Linked DNA regions of Homo sapiens: regions 2 and 3 are each linked to region 1. Evidence: fine-mapped QTL for protein levels in blood plasma. A gene starts in region 1. Each other region holds a variant in brackets. All regions are shown on one strand. Distances are between the middles of the regions.

What was found. PIP is the posterior inclusion probability: the model's chance that the variant is causal. The UK Biobank Pharma Proteomics Project read protein levels with antibody pairs (Olink). The fine-mapping took linkage between variants from a reference panel, not from the people measured, so its PIPs are less certain.
Region 2: its variant is fine-mapped to the plasma level of the MATN2 protein (UK Biobank, PIP above 0.99). The variant lies in the coding sequence of MATN2. If it changes the protein, the assay may bind it differently, which can mimic a change of level.
Region 3: its variant is fine-mapped to the plasma level of the MATN2 protein (UK Biobank, PIP above 0.99).

The regions. Positions count from the first base shown.
Region 1 is chr8:97,866,673-97,871,896 of GRCh38, forward strand. MATN2 (matrilin 2) reads left to right here and starts at 2,392. Exons shown (of 19, transcript NM_002380.5): 1 at 2,392-2,615. RefSeq lists an enhancer at 1,493-1,992.
Region 2 is chr8:97,976,749-97,981,972 of GRCh38, forward strand. It overlaps MATN2 (matrilin 2), which reads left to right. Exons shown (of 19, transcript NM_002380.5): 6 at 2,138-2,260. Among named protein-coding and RNA genes, the nearest start is that of SNORA72, 63 kb to the right of the region's middle. RefSeq lists an enhancer at 3,394-3,443. The variant A/G (reference allele first, on the strand shown) is at 2,245.
Region 3 is chr8:97,889,680-97,894,903 of GRCh38, forward strand. The region is part of intron 2 of MATN2 (matrilin 2); the gene reads left to right. Among named protein-coding and RNA genes, the nearest start is that of MATN2, 23 kb to the left of the region's middle. The variant T/C (reference allele first, on the strand shown) is at 3,008.

The DNA of each region.
Region 1 (5,224 bases):
GAGTTGCTGGGATTATAGCCTCCTGAGTAGCTGGGATTATAGGCGCCCACTACCACACCCGGCTACCTTTTGTATTTTTAGTAGAGACGGGGTTTCACCATGTTGACCAGGCTGGTCTAGAACTCCTGACCTCAAGTGATCAGTTCGCCTCAGCCTCCCAAAGTGCTGGGATTACAGGTGTGAGCCATCGCCCAGTCCCAGAACTAAAAATCTTAAACCCACACTTCTGAATAAGGTTCTCTGTACATCTAGCACATGGCAGGACCTCTAGCAGAAAAGGCAATTTTGGCCTTTTCCTAATCTATAGTCTTAATTATCAACTTGCAATTCATCCTGAAGGTAACCCAGAAATCATTTCATTGTTTGTTCTGCCTTTATATTTCAGGACATTGAACTTGCTTTTCCTTCATTTTTTTCTGGCAGACCTGAAGATCATCCCACAAGGTAGAACAACTCATTTAACCTATTTGACTTGGCCCCAAGTGTAATTTGTACATAGATTAACTATTCTGAAGAATTCCAATAGAACTCCCTGGGGGGAAAACACCCATTTTAATTGGCATACACCAGAGTCACTGGAATCAGTTACTAAATTACAATTTCCTTACAATTTGGAAGGGTTTGGGGATTGTTATTGTTTTCCTGGTAAATTACTGGATCACACTGGTGTCTTGGAATAAGTCAACACATTTTAAATTTAAGTTTCCATAAACTGTAGCTCAACTTCCCAAGTTCCTAGGGGATTTTCACTGGCCCAGACTCAGGAAGAATTTTCTTCTATGGGATCCAAGACTTCAGAGACCAAACATTTCCTGAAGACTTTCCTCTGCTTTCTGACCTCCACCTACCTCCTCCCAAAGACATAACAAAAAAACTATTTGTGATCAGTGCAGGCAGCCAAGAGTGCCCAGTGGGCCTAAGGTACTGGGTAAAGGAACAGGAATCCACAATTCTTTCTTGGTATTAAGGTATCATTGACTTGCCTGATGGCTCGAGTATGTTAACCCCTTGCTTCATGGCTGGAATTTTAATTACCCCTCCTGGAGCTTTTCTGAAGAATTGATTTTGGCGTTTATTCATATTTCAGAAATCAACTCTATCATCAAATAGGAATGATGGTTAATTACAAAACAAAGTCCGCCCAAAGCACCAAATTATCAGACTGTGGCACATCCAGAGGTTTTGAAACTAGTTAGTGCTGCTGCCTCTGCTGGTAGCTTGTTAAAACCTGAACTGGGGCCGGGCGCAGTGGCTCACGCCTGTAATCCCAGCACTTTGGGAGGCCGAGGCGGGCGGATCACGAGGTCAGGAGATCGACACCATCCTGGCTAACACGGTGAAACCCCGTCTCTACTGAAAATACAAAAAAAATTAGCCGGCCGTGGTGGCGGGAGCCTGTAGTCCCAGCTACTCTGAGGCAGGAGAATGGCGTGAATCCGGGAGGCAGAGCTTGCAGTAAGCCAAGATTGCGCCACTGCACTCCAGCCTGGGCGACTCCGTCTCAAAAAACAAACAAACAAACAAAAACACAAAACCTGAACTGGGTGCGTTGGCTAGTGGTTTGGGAACAGAATTTTGGAGCTTTATAGGAGATGTCCTGGTCTGTTATACATCCACTCACCCCAGCCTCCAGGAACTGGGGAGCTGGTAGAGGGGGGTGCCGGCCACTTTGACTGTCGCTGGCCAATCCTGTCTTCTGCATCCCTCCAAGGCTCCATGGGGACATCCAAGGTGAGGTTCCTCCATTCTGCAAAGTTGCAAATGTCTCTGCTCATAATTTCAAAAGTCTTGTCTGAACTAGACTTTCCCTGCTCCCTCGGGGTAGGAATTTTGTCTCCTCTCCATCCTGGCATCTTTACCTCCTCCCCATCCCGGGGCCTGGTCCCCAGCCAGTGGACGCTCTGTTAATATGAACTGGCACTGGTGGGGTGCTCTGGGCACTGGCAAGACAGCTCTTGGCGCTTGTCATCAATTAGCCCAATTCTCACCACTTTTTTCTCCATCCCCGCGTCAGTGGGTGCGTCCCGCAGGTCATGACCCCAAGTTCTAGATGTAAGATTCCTGCCATGTCTCCTTTCCCCCAGAAGACCCCTCCCCGCACTCCCAACCCGACAGGCCCCTAAAGCTGCCTGTGTTCCGTGCCTGCGGCTCCGGACCCCTGGAGTCTGATGCCCGCCTGGGCTCAGGCACGGACGGAGTGGAGCCAGGTGGCAGCAGGCAGGGCGCGCCGCCAGAGTGCCCAGCTCCCGGGGCTGCCCACAGGGTGGGGCCGCCCTCGCCGCCGCTCCCTCTCCGCGCCTTCCCCATCCCCAAAGAGGACACCCCTCCTTCCGCCCGGCCCGCTCCCCACCCCCGCCGCGGCACCGCCTCCCCAGCCGCCCGCCCTTGCCCAGCGCCTCCCAGGCAGCCAGCGAGCGAAGGGAGCGCTCTGGGATGGGACTTGGAGCAAGCGGCGGCGGCGGAGACAGAGGCAGAGGCAGAAGCTGGGGCTCCGTCCTCGCCTCCCACGAGCGATCCCCGAGGAGAGCCGCGGCCCTCGGCGAGGCGAAGAGGCCGACGAGGAAGACCCGGGTGGCTGCGCCCCTGCCTCGCTTCCCAGGCGCCGGCGGCTGCAGGTGAGCGCGGCGCGCTTTCCCCCGGCTCTGCGCGGCCGGGCGGCCTCGAAGTGCAGGCGGACCGACCCACCGACAGAATACCGAGCCTGGGCTGCCCGACGCGCAGGCGCCCTCCCCAGGCCCGCACTGCAGCCCCCAGCGCCCCGGGGCCCCGGCGCCTTCGACCCCTCCGAGGACAGGGGGAGAGGGAGGGCGGCGCTGCCCGACCCCTCGGCCGGGAGAGCTGGGCGCGCTCCCTGCGCAGGACAAGCCGCGCTGCAGCCGCCCCGGAGTGCCCCGTGGGGGCGCTGTGGCACGCAGCGGGGACGCCCAGACCCCGGCCACCGCGACCCAGGGAAAGGGAGACCTGTTGAGCGGGTATGCAGGGTGATTCCTATTCCACGGACAGCCGATGGCTCCCCCTTCCCTCTTCGGAACCTGGTATTTTCATGCCCGTGTCATCTGGATTTTGTTCTTGGGTCTCTATGGCAGCTAAACCTCCAGCTTCCCTATATTGTGGAAGAGGGAGAGAAAGGGGAAGGCATTTTGTGGTAGTTGCTAGAAACCCCAGAACAATTTGGAGCCGTTTGGGGAGAGGACAGAGAAATGGGGACTGTCCCTGGTAGGGTCTCCAGGACTGGGGGCACAGGAAAGTGCTCTCCTCAGGGACACTCGCGCCCACCCTGAACAAACCCAATTGACCAAGTTTCAATTTGTCATAAATCAGGAAGCCACAATGCATCTGCACCAAGCACACTTAAAATCGGCCTTTAAGGAATGGGGCAGTCAAGAGACTTCAGGGACCCGTGGTCGAGAGCAGAGACTGGGGTCAGCCTGCTTGGGTTTCAACCCCAGCTGTGAAGTTTACAGGGTTGATAACTTGAAGGTACCCAAGTATGCCTCAGTTTCCTCATCTGTCTAATGAGGATGGTAATACCCACAGAACTGTGAGGATTAAATGAGATATGGCGGCCGGGCACGGTGGCTCAGGGCTGTCATCCCAGCACTTTGGGAAGCCGGGGCGGGCGGATCACCTGAGGTCGGGAGTTCGAGACCAGCCTGACCAACATGGAGAAACCCCGTCTCTACTAAAAATACAAAATTAGCCGGACTTGGTGGCGCATGCCTGTAATCCCAGCTACTCGGGAGGTTGAGGCAGGAGAATCGGTTGAACCCAGGAGGCAGAGATTGCAGTGAGCGGAGATGGTGCCATTGCACTCCAGCCTGGGCAACAAGAGCTAAACTCCGTCTCAAAAGAAAAAAAAAAAGATATGGCAAGTAAAGTCCTTAGAACATTTCCAGGAGCATTCTAAGATTAGGTGAGTTCCATGGCTTGTCTTTGCAGAAATAGCAAGGAGCTGCTATGAGCAGTGAATGTACCTCTTCCCCAGTTCAGAAAGAGAGGCTCTCCATGGGTACGTGAGGGTGGCAGATAAGCCACGTGTATGCAACTGGTAGTTCCATGCAGGAGTCCACACGGGCGCAGTTCTCCCTGCTTGCTCCCAAAGGGCCAACCTCATAAAACCATGTCAAAATACCAACATGGGTTTATGACCTGGAATGTTTCCTCTCAGTCCCTGAAACTTGGCACTTAGAATCCTCTGTGGAGAATGAGATACTTATGGCTCTTCACCTTGCATTTTCCTATCTGTCCACACTTTTTACTTTTATTTCTGCCAATAGAATTCAATCTCAGGCCCCCGAGTTACCAGGACACTGTCTTCTATAAATCGGGGCTCTGGGGTTTCTTGTTCCCAGGCAACCCAGGGCCACCAAGGCCTAAGCTTGCTTGTTGGAGGTGTCAGAGCAGAGTCCAAATCTGAAACACCCTCGAGCAGCTGTCATGCCCTAAGCTCTTATCAGCGAGTGCCATATGTCCTTGTTTAGCAAAAGGTAGTTAAAAGTGTGGCCTGAGATTTAAAGAAAAGGAGAGATGTTTGCTCTTTGAAATAAGAGAGCCATTGGAGGTTCTGGAAAAATAATTCTACAGTTTATTTAGAAACAGTTCTGACTGGCACCTAAGAGAGGGCAAGGAGTGAGGTGGGGAGACTAAAAGGGGGAGAGACCGGCTTAGGCCTCAGGAAAAGCAGGCCGAAGAGGGTGTGACAGGTCTAACGCTGGCCTGAGCAAGGTGTTGGGTATGAGGCTGGGCAAGCAGTAGGAGAGGTGAGTGGTTTAAGACCAGTCAAGTTGGCAGAGAGCCTCTAGTGCTGCCCCTGGCACTCACTGCCCTCTGATCTGTAGCACCTGCAGGAGCGTCCCTTCCAGGGATTCCCCGTCTTCTAGGGAAGCTATGGAGGACTCCCCTGTTTAAAGCATATGGCAAGATAACTCAGGAGGGCCAGGGAAAGAGGGAGGCTGAGCATATGCCAAGGGGAGAATGGGGAATGTCATTGCTGTTGCTAGTGAATGGTGCCAGGGAGGTCCTTCCAAGGGGCCACTTGCCACTTGGAGCTTCAGCCCATGAGGCCATCCTTGAACCCTGCCATGTGGCTCGGCAGACAGCCAATACTGCCTGAAGGGGGCTCAGATGGAATGGCAGGGCTGGGCTGTTGCCAGTAATTGGTGTTAATGACTATGACAGTGGCTTTGACATGGATGAGATGGAGTTGGGGTACAACCCAAAGCAC
Region 2 (5,224 bases), 110 kb after region 1:
TTTGAGACAGGGTCTTGCTCTGTCAACCCCAGAGTTGACCCTAGGTGCACTCTCTTTTTCTCATTTCACCTCTAATCCAACAGGAATCCTGTTAGCCCCACCTTCAGTATTTACCAGGTGTATTAGTTTGCTAGAGCTATGCTGTGGTTTGGATATGGTTTGTTTGGCTTCACCAAGTCTCGTGTTGAAATTTGACCTCTGTGGCCAGGCACGGTGGCTCATGCCTGTAATCCCAGCACTTTGGGAGGAGGCTGAGGCCAGTGGATCTCTTGAGCTCAGAAGGTTGAGGCCAGCCTGGCCCACATGGTGAAACCCCGTTCCTACTAAAAATATAAAAATTAGCCAGATGTGGTGGCGCACACCTGTAGTCCCAGCTACTTGGATGGCTGAGGCAGGAGGATCACTTGAACCCAGGAGGTTGAGGCTGCAGTGAGCAGAGGTGGTGCCACTGCACTCCAGCCTGGGAGACAAAGTGAGACCCTGTCTCAAAAAAAAAAAAAAAAAAAAAAAAAAAAAAGACAAGAAATTTGATTCCCAATGTTGGAGGTGGGACCTGCTGGAAAGTGTTTGGGTCGTAGGGACAGATCTCTTCTTATAAGAACACCAGTCATATTGAATTAGAGCACGCCACCCTAATAAGCACATTTTAACTTGGTTACTTCTGCAAAGACCCTATTTCCAAATAAGGCCACATTCGTAGGTACCAGGGTTTAGGACTCCAACATGTCTTTTTAGGGGACATAATTCAACCCATAACTTCCAGAACACCACTCCCCCTCATCCCCTGCAACATCCTGGTTTAAGCCTCCACCCTTCCTCCCTGGGATTACTGGAGTCACTTTCTTACTGGTTTTCTACTCTCAGATTTGCCCTGTCAGTCTATTCTTGACTCATGGGTCCAGAACCCTGCAGTGACTCCCAACTCATTCAGACTAAAAGCTGAGGTCCTTGCATGGCCCATGGGTCCCTCCTGACTGCCCCCTTCTCATCTCCCACCTCTCTCCCTCCTCCAGCCACCCTGGCCTCTTTGCTGATCCTCCAGCCCACCAGGCAGAGTCCCACCTCCTGGCCTTCGCACTTGCTGTTTGTTTTGCCCAAGATACCCTCTCCCAGATATCCTCACGGCTCGTATTTTAGTCAACACTCTTCCTAACCACCCACCTTCTCAGAGAGGCCTCTCCTGACCACCTCTATTACATCCCACCTGCTACCCACTCCCCCACTGACCCTACTCCTATTCATTGTTTTGCTTTTCTCCAGAATTTTCTTTATCTCCTAATAGACTATGCTATTTACTTATTTTACTTCTTATCTGCTCCCCACTCCCAGCATCATTATCCAAATATACGCTCCTTGGGGGCTGGAATTTTGGATTATTTTCTTACTTGTTCTATCCCTAGCACCTAAAACAGGACCTGGCCCGTAGTAGGTACTCAGGAACTAATGAATACATTTTTGTTCATTACACATATTTGTGTAATGAACACATATTTGTGGAACTAATGAAACAAATGAAATATTTGTGGAACACAGGAACACATTTGTGGAACTAATGAAAAATCAGCCAGTGTATTTTCTCATACATTGTTAAATCATTTACCCTTATTCAATGTTCATCTTATTTTCTAGGATTTTTTGTTGTTGTTGTAAACAATGCTATTAATAGTTTATTGTATATAATTTCACCCTTTTCCTGGCTATTTCTTTGGGTTTCACGTCCAGGGTGAACATTGTCAAATTGCCTTCCAAAAGGATCTTTCTCAATTTATAATGCCCCTACCATTAATAACGCTGCTGCCTTTCTACCACTGGGTTTTATCTCATCTTATTTTTGCCAGTTTACTAGGTGTAAGTGCACCTTGTGATGATTTTGATTTGCAATTCTTTAACTTTTAAATACAATTGTTCACATGTTCTTTAGTTTACTTCCTATATCTTCCTATATGAATTGCCTGATATAGACTCCTGATTTTTTTTGAGGGGGGCAGAGACCTTGGGTTCATAACTGTTTATCCTACTCTTTTGGGGGGCAATAATATTAATCCTAATTAATATCTGTTATCATTTTGCCCTCATCCTACCATTCCCTTTTCCTCTGTTTGCATTTCTAATTCTGAATGTGTTTTATTCTCTCCAGCTGTGGACTACTGTGCCTCAGAAAACCACGGATGTGAACATGAGTGTGTAAATGCTGATGGCTCCTACCTTTGCCAGTGCCATGAAGGATTTGCTCTTAACCCAGAT[A/G]AAAAAACGTGCACAAGTAAGTTACACACACATGCACACACAGAGAAATATTTGCTGTTACTGCTGTGGTGACTGTGACCATGGAACTCTCTCAAGTATAGATTAGCAATATAATTATGTCATGGGGGTCTAATACCTTTTGCCCCATTCCTCCTCTGTCAGGACTTTCATGACTTGGCTTAAGACCATAGACCACTGTATCTCAACATCACTATTCAAGGAATATGATGAAGGCACCATGTGTAGGACTGTTCCTTCAGCATCTGCTGAGCATGCTGACAATCCGAGCAACTTACTTCCTGCTAACTCAGCCTGACTGTGCCCATCAGCACTAACAGGGCTTGAGATGTTTTCATTGAAGCTTTGTGGCTTGTGGGCTTTAGCTCTGACTCCACGCAAGAAAATCGCTGAGCCAAAAAGAATCATAAGTGATTTCTTCTGGTGGACCGCAGTTTGCAAAGAACTGCTCATGTTTTGTTTGAGCTATTTAGTTCAATTGGATTTTAACTGTATACATAAAAATCAGAATTAATTTCAGCTCCCAAAATTTGAACATAAAATTCGATAAACTAAAGATGATCATTAGTTTTGCAAAAAAGATAATAACTAGTTACAAAAAGATTCCAAAAGTGTTCTATTAAATATAAAGGTACATCAGGAGACTTAAGGGATTGTGTATGGATTATTATCCTTCTATAGGGAGGATCACTTGAGAAAAGCTTGCTTGTTAAGTATTAGGGCCAAGCATTTATAAAAAGTGGACTTTAATAACAATCTAGAATAGGGTAAGGCACCTCAGAGACATGCATCAGTGAGAAAACAGGATTTTAATTCATAAAAAGTTCATGTACCTACAACCTTTCTAAAATGTATTCACTATGTAAAACAGGATACATCTGCACAAAACCTTTTTCAACATAAACTTACTTCCTACTCTTCAATACCTAAATATCAGCAGCTTACAAACACCAGAGCTGGAGGTTTGGGTGATGTATGGAACTATAAGGGACACATTAGGTCAAAAGCATACATTTCTGGAGCCCCAACCATGTGCCAATAGAAATGAGTACGGCAAGGTCCTTAAGGGAGAAGATAACTGTGGCTGAGTCTTGGAGGTGGAGCTGTCATTCACTAGGCAGAAAAGGGTGAGGTGGGGGTTCCAGGAGAAGGAAAGAAGTTGAAGATGTGAACCAAGCAGAGAACTGTAGTCTCCATGCCCCGTGCATGACTGGCATATACAGTGGTTTATTTGTTTTGTTTATTGAAAGAGTAAGTAAATGAATGAGTGGGCTGCTGTGTTTGTGGTCTCCCTTCCCTTCTGAATATTCTGAACTGTAAAATAGCAGCCTGTGCTGTCGTCGTGGTTGGGGAGTTGTGGTTGTTGGGCTGATGAGTCAGTGTTCCTCATCAAAGAGGAGGCCGTGGGCTGCCAGCAGCGGGCCTTGGTTCTAATCCCAGCTTCTCTGCTTTTTCTCTTGGTGATCTTGGGCAAGTTACTTATGCCTCAGTTTCCTCAGTTACAGTACAGGATGATAATGCTGCCTACTGCATAGCATTATTCTTTCCTTTTTTTTTTTTTTTTTTTTTTTTGACACTGGGTCTTACTCTGTCACCCAGGCTGGAGAGCAGTGATGTGATCTCGGCTCACTGCAACCTCCACCTCCTGGGTTCAAGCGATTCCCCCACCTCAGCCTCCCAAGTGGCTGAGACTACAGGCTCGCACCAACACACCCAGCTAATTTTTTTGGTATTTTTTGATAGCAGTGGTGTTTCACCATATTAGCCAGGCTGGTGTCGAATCCCTGACCTCAAGTGATCCACCCACCTCAGCCTCCCAAAGTGCTGGGAATACAGGCATGAGCCACAGCACCCGGCCATAGCATAATCTTGAATACTAAATGAGGCTGGGCACAGTGGCTCACGCCTGTAATCCCAGCACTTTGGGAAGAGAAGCAGGAGGATTACTTGAGCCCAGGAGTTTGAGACCAGCCCTGGTAATATGGAGGGACCCTATTTCTACAAAAACTGTTTTTTTTTTAATTAGCCAGGTATGGTGACAAGTGTCTGTACTCCCAGCTACTTGGGAGGCTCAGGTGGGAAGATCACTAGTTGGGCCTGGGAGGTTGGGGCTGTAGTGAGCCATGATGGCACCACTGCACTCCAGCCTGGAGGACACAGTAAGACCTTGTCTTAAAAAAAAAAAAAGGCTAAAAAGGGATGATGTGGGTTTCAAAGACTTTATTTATTATCATTATGTTTTTTTAGAAATAGGATCTTACTCTGTCACCCATGCTGGAATGCAGTGGTGCAATCCTAGCTCATTGCAGCTTCCAACTCCTGGGCTCAAGCAATCCTCCCACCTCAGCCTCCCAAAGTGCTGGAATTATGGTCATCATGAGCCACCACACCTGGCCTCCAAAACTCTAAAAAAATGAGTATTTAACTGTGCATATACCACGTGCCTGGGCTACATTTAAAGGTGCAAAAAACATTCAAGATTTCCACTGCAAGCTGGTGAGGGACCTTAGCCATAGCCACACTGAGTAGCTGAGTCATGGTGCCAGGAGTTATGTGACCAAGGGCCTACAGTGTGATGCAGCCAGGACCACAGCAGGAGTTAGAGGAAGGAGACCAGTTAGACCAGAACAGGTGAGATGCTGCCTTGCAGGGATGAGGACTGGAGAAAAACACATATCCTAGCCAGTCTCCTACCTGCCTCTCCAGACTGCACACACTGGCTGGGGTCACCTGATTTCCACCCCAGCACCAGCCCTAGTTCCCAGAGTGGCACCATCTTCCCCACCCTGTGGCTCAGCATGCCTCCTGTCCCAGATCCCCAGCCCAGGGTGGTGCAGGCAAGGAGGGTGTTGGAGCCCTGGAATCAGACCCTGGAAGTAGATACCGCAGCATAGTGGGACTGGGAGAGGAGGTTTGGCTAGGAGCCACGGGAGGGGCTGATCCAGCTGTGAGGTCTCACCAG
Region 3 (5,224 bases), 23 kb after region 1:
GTGATCTGCCATCTCGACCTCCCAAAGTGCTGGGATTACAGACATGAGCCACTACGCATGGCCAAGATACCTGATTTCTGGATCACCAGCAGTAACTGCCCAGTTGGGTTTCTGATGGGGCTGGTCTCAGGAAAAGCCACCACACACTTGCCTGGAAAAGCACACTGCTTCTCTAGGCTCCAAGTCTCTCTCTCCCTCCCTTCCTCCCTCTGATACACACACACAGACCACATCACCCCCACCTTCCCTGGTTGTCAGCATTCACTGTCGTCCTCCTTTGCCTAGAAGCCCATTTTGCTAAAGGCACCAACCCTGCATCCAGCATTGATTCCTTCTTCTCATTTTTCAAGAGAATGTGTCAGAGACAAAGAGGAGGATGGGGCACAACCTATCTTTCCCACCCCAAGACTGGAAGTGGGCATGGGTGTTTTCACTCCGTGAGCTGTGCAAGTGGCTGCTCCCAGATATGCTGGAGGGCTGCTTGGCTTATGAAAATGGTGGAGTGGGCCGGACATGGTGGCTCACACCTGCAATCCCAGCACTTTGGGAGGCCGAGGTGGGCGGATCACAAGGTCAGGAGTTCGAGACCAGCCTGACCAACATGGTGAAACCCTGTCTCTACTAAAAATACAAAAATTAGCTGGGCATGGTGGCGGGTGCCTGTAATCCCAGCTACTCGGGAGGCTGAGGCAGGAGAATCGCTTGAACCCAGGAAGTGGAGGTTGCAGTGAGCTAAGATCGTGCCACTGCACTCTAGCCTGGGTGACAGAGTGAGACTCTGTCTCAAAAAAAAAAAAAAAAGAAAATAGTGGAGTGACAATCATGAAACCAGAAAGCAAACACTATAGCTGTGGCCTGGATTCTCAAGTGCAATCTGCTTTTTTTTTTCTCATTTTGATGGGGAACAAAAATGGAAAAGCATGCTCATTGGTAGTCCTTGCCCCGAGGGTATGACCTTCTCTTCATTCTTAGAATAATGTAGTGTTTTGTATTTTATGCATGTTTGCTTCTCTTGGCTCTTGGACTATTTGTTCAGAATATGGCCCAGGCCACATTTCACTTTTTAATGGCAAATCATTTTGGCTGAAGTTATGGCATCCACTGGCATGATGGATTTTACTGGTTATTTGCTTGCAAGTATGTTCCTGAAAGTTTAACAGAGTAGAAACAGCAGAATTGTTTCTTAGGTTAATTTTTTTTGAACTTTCTGGGTTTTAAAAATGTTTATCTTTTATGTTTAAATTCAGGTCAGAGTCTCAGTAACAACTTGAGTCAGTTTGAAAAAATAACGCATGTATATATCCACCATCCTGTGAACATCTGTGGGCTGTTCACTCGGCAGCCTGTGATGTCTGTCCACATGGGCTTATCTCTTACCTCATTCATTTATCTGGAATTTCTACTCTGTGCCAGATGCCGGTTGGGGGTGTGGGGGTAGTGTTTAAGATGAATAGACACCATCAGGAGGTGCACAGAGTAGTGGAAGAGACAGGCATGTGAAAAGATCATTAATTTGGTAGAATCGGTGTGCAAAAGTAGAGGCATAGCTACATTATAGCTCAACTCTGCCTGCTGAGCAGGCTTAGTGTAAGGCAGTGGTTCTCAAGCTTTGGTCTCAGGATCCTTCCTTTTACGCTAAAAATTATTTTTATTTTATTATTTTATTTTATTTTATTTTGAGATAGGGTCTCACTGTCTCCCAGGCTGGAGTGCAGTGGCATGATCATGGCTCGCTGCAGCCTTGACCTCTTGTGCTTAAGCAATCCTCCAACCTCAGCATCTCAAGTAGCTGAGACTACAGGCACATGACACTACGCCTGGCTAATTTTTGTATTTTTTGTAGAGACAGGGTTTCGCCATGTTGTCCAGGCTGATCTTGAACTCCTGGGCTCAAGCGATCCTCCCCCCTCAGTCTCCCAAAGTGCTGGGATTCTAGGCGTGAGCCACTGTGCCCAGCCAAAAATTATTAAGGATCCCAAATAACTTTTGTTTGTTTTTTAAGAATCCTGAGGACAATCAAGGGAGCTTTGTTTATGTGGGTTAGATCTATTGGTATCTACCTGATCAGAAATTTAAAAATAACAATAATAAAATCAGAATGTGTTAACAAACTATATATGTATAAAAAACTATATTTTCTGGCCAGGTGCAGTGGCTCATGCCTGTAATTCCAGTACTTTGGGAGGCTGAGGTGGAAGGATCACTTGAGCCCAGGAGTTTGAGACCAGTCTGGGCAACATAGGGATACCTTGTCTCTACAAAAATAAAAAAATGAGGCCGTGCACAGTGGCTCACACCTGTAATCCCAGCACTTTGGGAGGCTGAGGTGGGCAGATCACTTGAGGTCAGGAGTTTGAGACCAGCCTGGCCAACATGGTGAAAAACTGTCTCTACTAAAAATACAAAAATTAGCCTGGTTTGGTGGTGTGCACCTGTAATCCCAGCTACTCCGGAGGCTGAGGCAGGAGAATCACTTGAACCCGGGAGGCGGAGGTTGCAGTGAGCCGAGATCACACCACTGCACTTCAGCCTGGGTGACAAGAGTGAAACTGTCTCAAAAAAAAAAAAGAAAGAAAAAAAAAAATTAGCCGGGTGTGGTGGTACACACCTATAGTCCCAGCTAATTGAAATGCTTAGGCTGCAGGATCACTTGAGCCCCAGAGGTCGAGGCTGCATGAGTGAGCCGTGATGGTGCCACTGCACTCCAGCCTGGGTGACAGAGTGAGACCCTGTCTCAAAAAAAAAAAAAAAAAAAAAAAGAAGAGTAGCACCGTTTTACAGTTTTGCAAATCTTGTAACGGTCTGGCTTCGTAGAAGACAGCTAGATTGTCATTTCTTGACCATTCAATCTGTCATGAAATGTTTTCGTTAGATTATATGAAAATGCATGGATATGTAGTTGGAAAAGGGAAGAGCATTTAAATAGCCTTTTCATATAATTGTGAATGTTCTTTGATACTACACCAAAACTTGACAAAGAGTAGTTTCTTAAAGTTTAGTTGCAATG[T/C]GAAATCTAAAATCAGATCAATAAACTTTTTGTTCTCTATATACCCACAAGAGAATGAGAGTATGAAAGGCAAACATTCATGTTATTATGGAAATAGTTCTGACCTCATGGATCCTCTGAAAAGGCCTCAGGGACCCCTAGAATTCCCCAAACTACACTTGAGAATGGCTGGTTTAAGAGAATTGTTCCCAGTGAAGGTCCTGCCCACGGAGAGCCCTGTGGGACAGCAGGTGGCAGAGGCATGAGGATGGAGTGTGGCAGTGGGGCTCCGATGTGGCGCTGGGTCTGCCAGACAGGTGGTCTGAGCTGGAGATAAGGCAGCAATAATTTAGGACCTCGAGGGCTCCAAGGAAGGAGTTTTGAGCTTCATTTTGCAGGGGTAGGAGCTGTGGAGGGCTTTAAGCAGTCAACAGTGGGTGTCGCTTTGTCTTTGCACCCACTGTACTCTCCGGACAGACTTGACCTTCCTGGGTTGTGGCAAAGAGCAGGGATCTAAATAGCAGGCTGCAACAGGAGAAGGAACGAGCACCTGCTCTAGCCCAAAGACCCCTCCAGGCCACAACGCTGGCAGGTAGAGTCGGAGAATCTGACTGTGCTGTACCCAGAACCCTTTGGACTTGGATTCTTCCCCTTGACCAGCCTTATCAGTGGCACCCATCCCCTTCCACACTCCTCGCTAGGCCCTCCTCAAGGGGGCGCTAACTGGAAGGCATGCTGCCCCACTGCTAATGGCCGCCTGCTTCGTTTGTGCACACTTTTTCTCTTTGTTACCCCACTTTCCTATGAGGAGGTGGACCTGTCTCCAGAACAACCAGTGGGGTATATCAGCCTTTTTGGAAACCTTAACCCTCCTTGCCCAAACTCCCAGAGTATTCTTATTTATTTATTTATTTATTTATTTATTTATTTATGATAGAGTCTTGCTGTGTCACCAGGCTGGAGTGCAGTGGTGGGATCTCGGCTCACTGCAACCTCCGCCTCCCAGGTTCAAGTGATTCTCCTGCCTCAGCCTCCAGAGTAGCTGGGATTACAGGTGCCTGCCACCACGCCCGGTTAATTTTTGTATTTTTAGTAGAGACAGGGTTTCACCATGTTGGCCGCCTGCCTCGGCCTCCCAAAGTGCTGGGATTACTGGCGTGAGCCGCCGCACCCGGCCCCCAGTGTATTCTTGATTCCCTCCACTCCACAAACTACTCTACAGTCAGCCAGCTTGTGGTCTCTGGTGGTGGTCTGTCTTATGAGGTCTTGTTGACATATGCATTCTTTTCTAAATTTACCAAACTGGCTCATTTTATTTCTGCTAACTAAACTTGAAAGCCTTTTCTTTTCCTATTATAGACTCTCCTTTGGATCAATACTACACACTCAGAAGTTATGTTTGTGTTTTAAGAGAGCATTTTGTGGCAATATGGCATCAATTCTAGAAGTGGGAGACAAAGATTTAAAAGGAAGTTGGCCCTGCAGTCTGGTCAGGGGATGGTAGGGCCTGAGCTCCCTCCCACCCCACACCCCACCACACACACTGCTGGAAGAATTCCAGAGGTGTTCCAGGGTAGACACCACAGCATTTAGTAAAATTTACTCATAACAGTTAATTTACTACTTAAAAACTAATGAAGAAAATCTAAGAATTCACCTTTTTTTTTTTTTTTTTTTTTTTTTAGACAGGATCTTATTCTGTTGCCCAGGCTGGAGTGCAGTGGCACTATCATAGCTCACTGCAGCCTGAGCTCAAGCGATCCTCCCAAGTCAGCTTCCCAACTAACTGGGACTACAGTCATGTACTACCACGCCCAACTAATTGTTTAATTTTTTTGCAGAGACAGGGTCTTACTATGTTGCACAGACTGGTTTCAAATTCTTGGCCTTATGCAATCCTCCTGCCTTGGCCTCCCAAAGTGTTGGGATTACAAGTGTGAACCATTCCTCCTGGCAGAATTCACCTTACACAGCCCCAAATTCTGCTCTTGGGGAATCACAGTGTATTAAGAGACACTTATTTTCATTTTTGCATGTATCTCTAAACCTGACATCAAAATATTCATAAAATTGCAATACGTTTCATATAATGAGCTGAAACCTCCTAAGTGAGCAATGTGAAGTTGTTGGCTGCCTGGAGAATTAAATGTAAGCATGGCCTGCTCTGTGTTGCTAATGGAAATTTTTACCTAGGTTGATATTTATTAACCCCCCCTTTTTTTTTTGAGACAGAGTCTT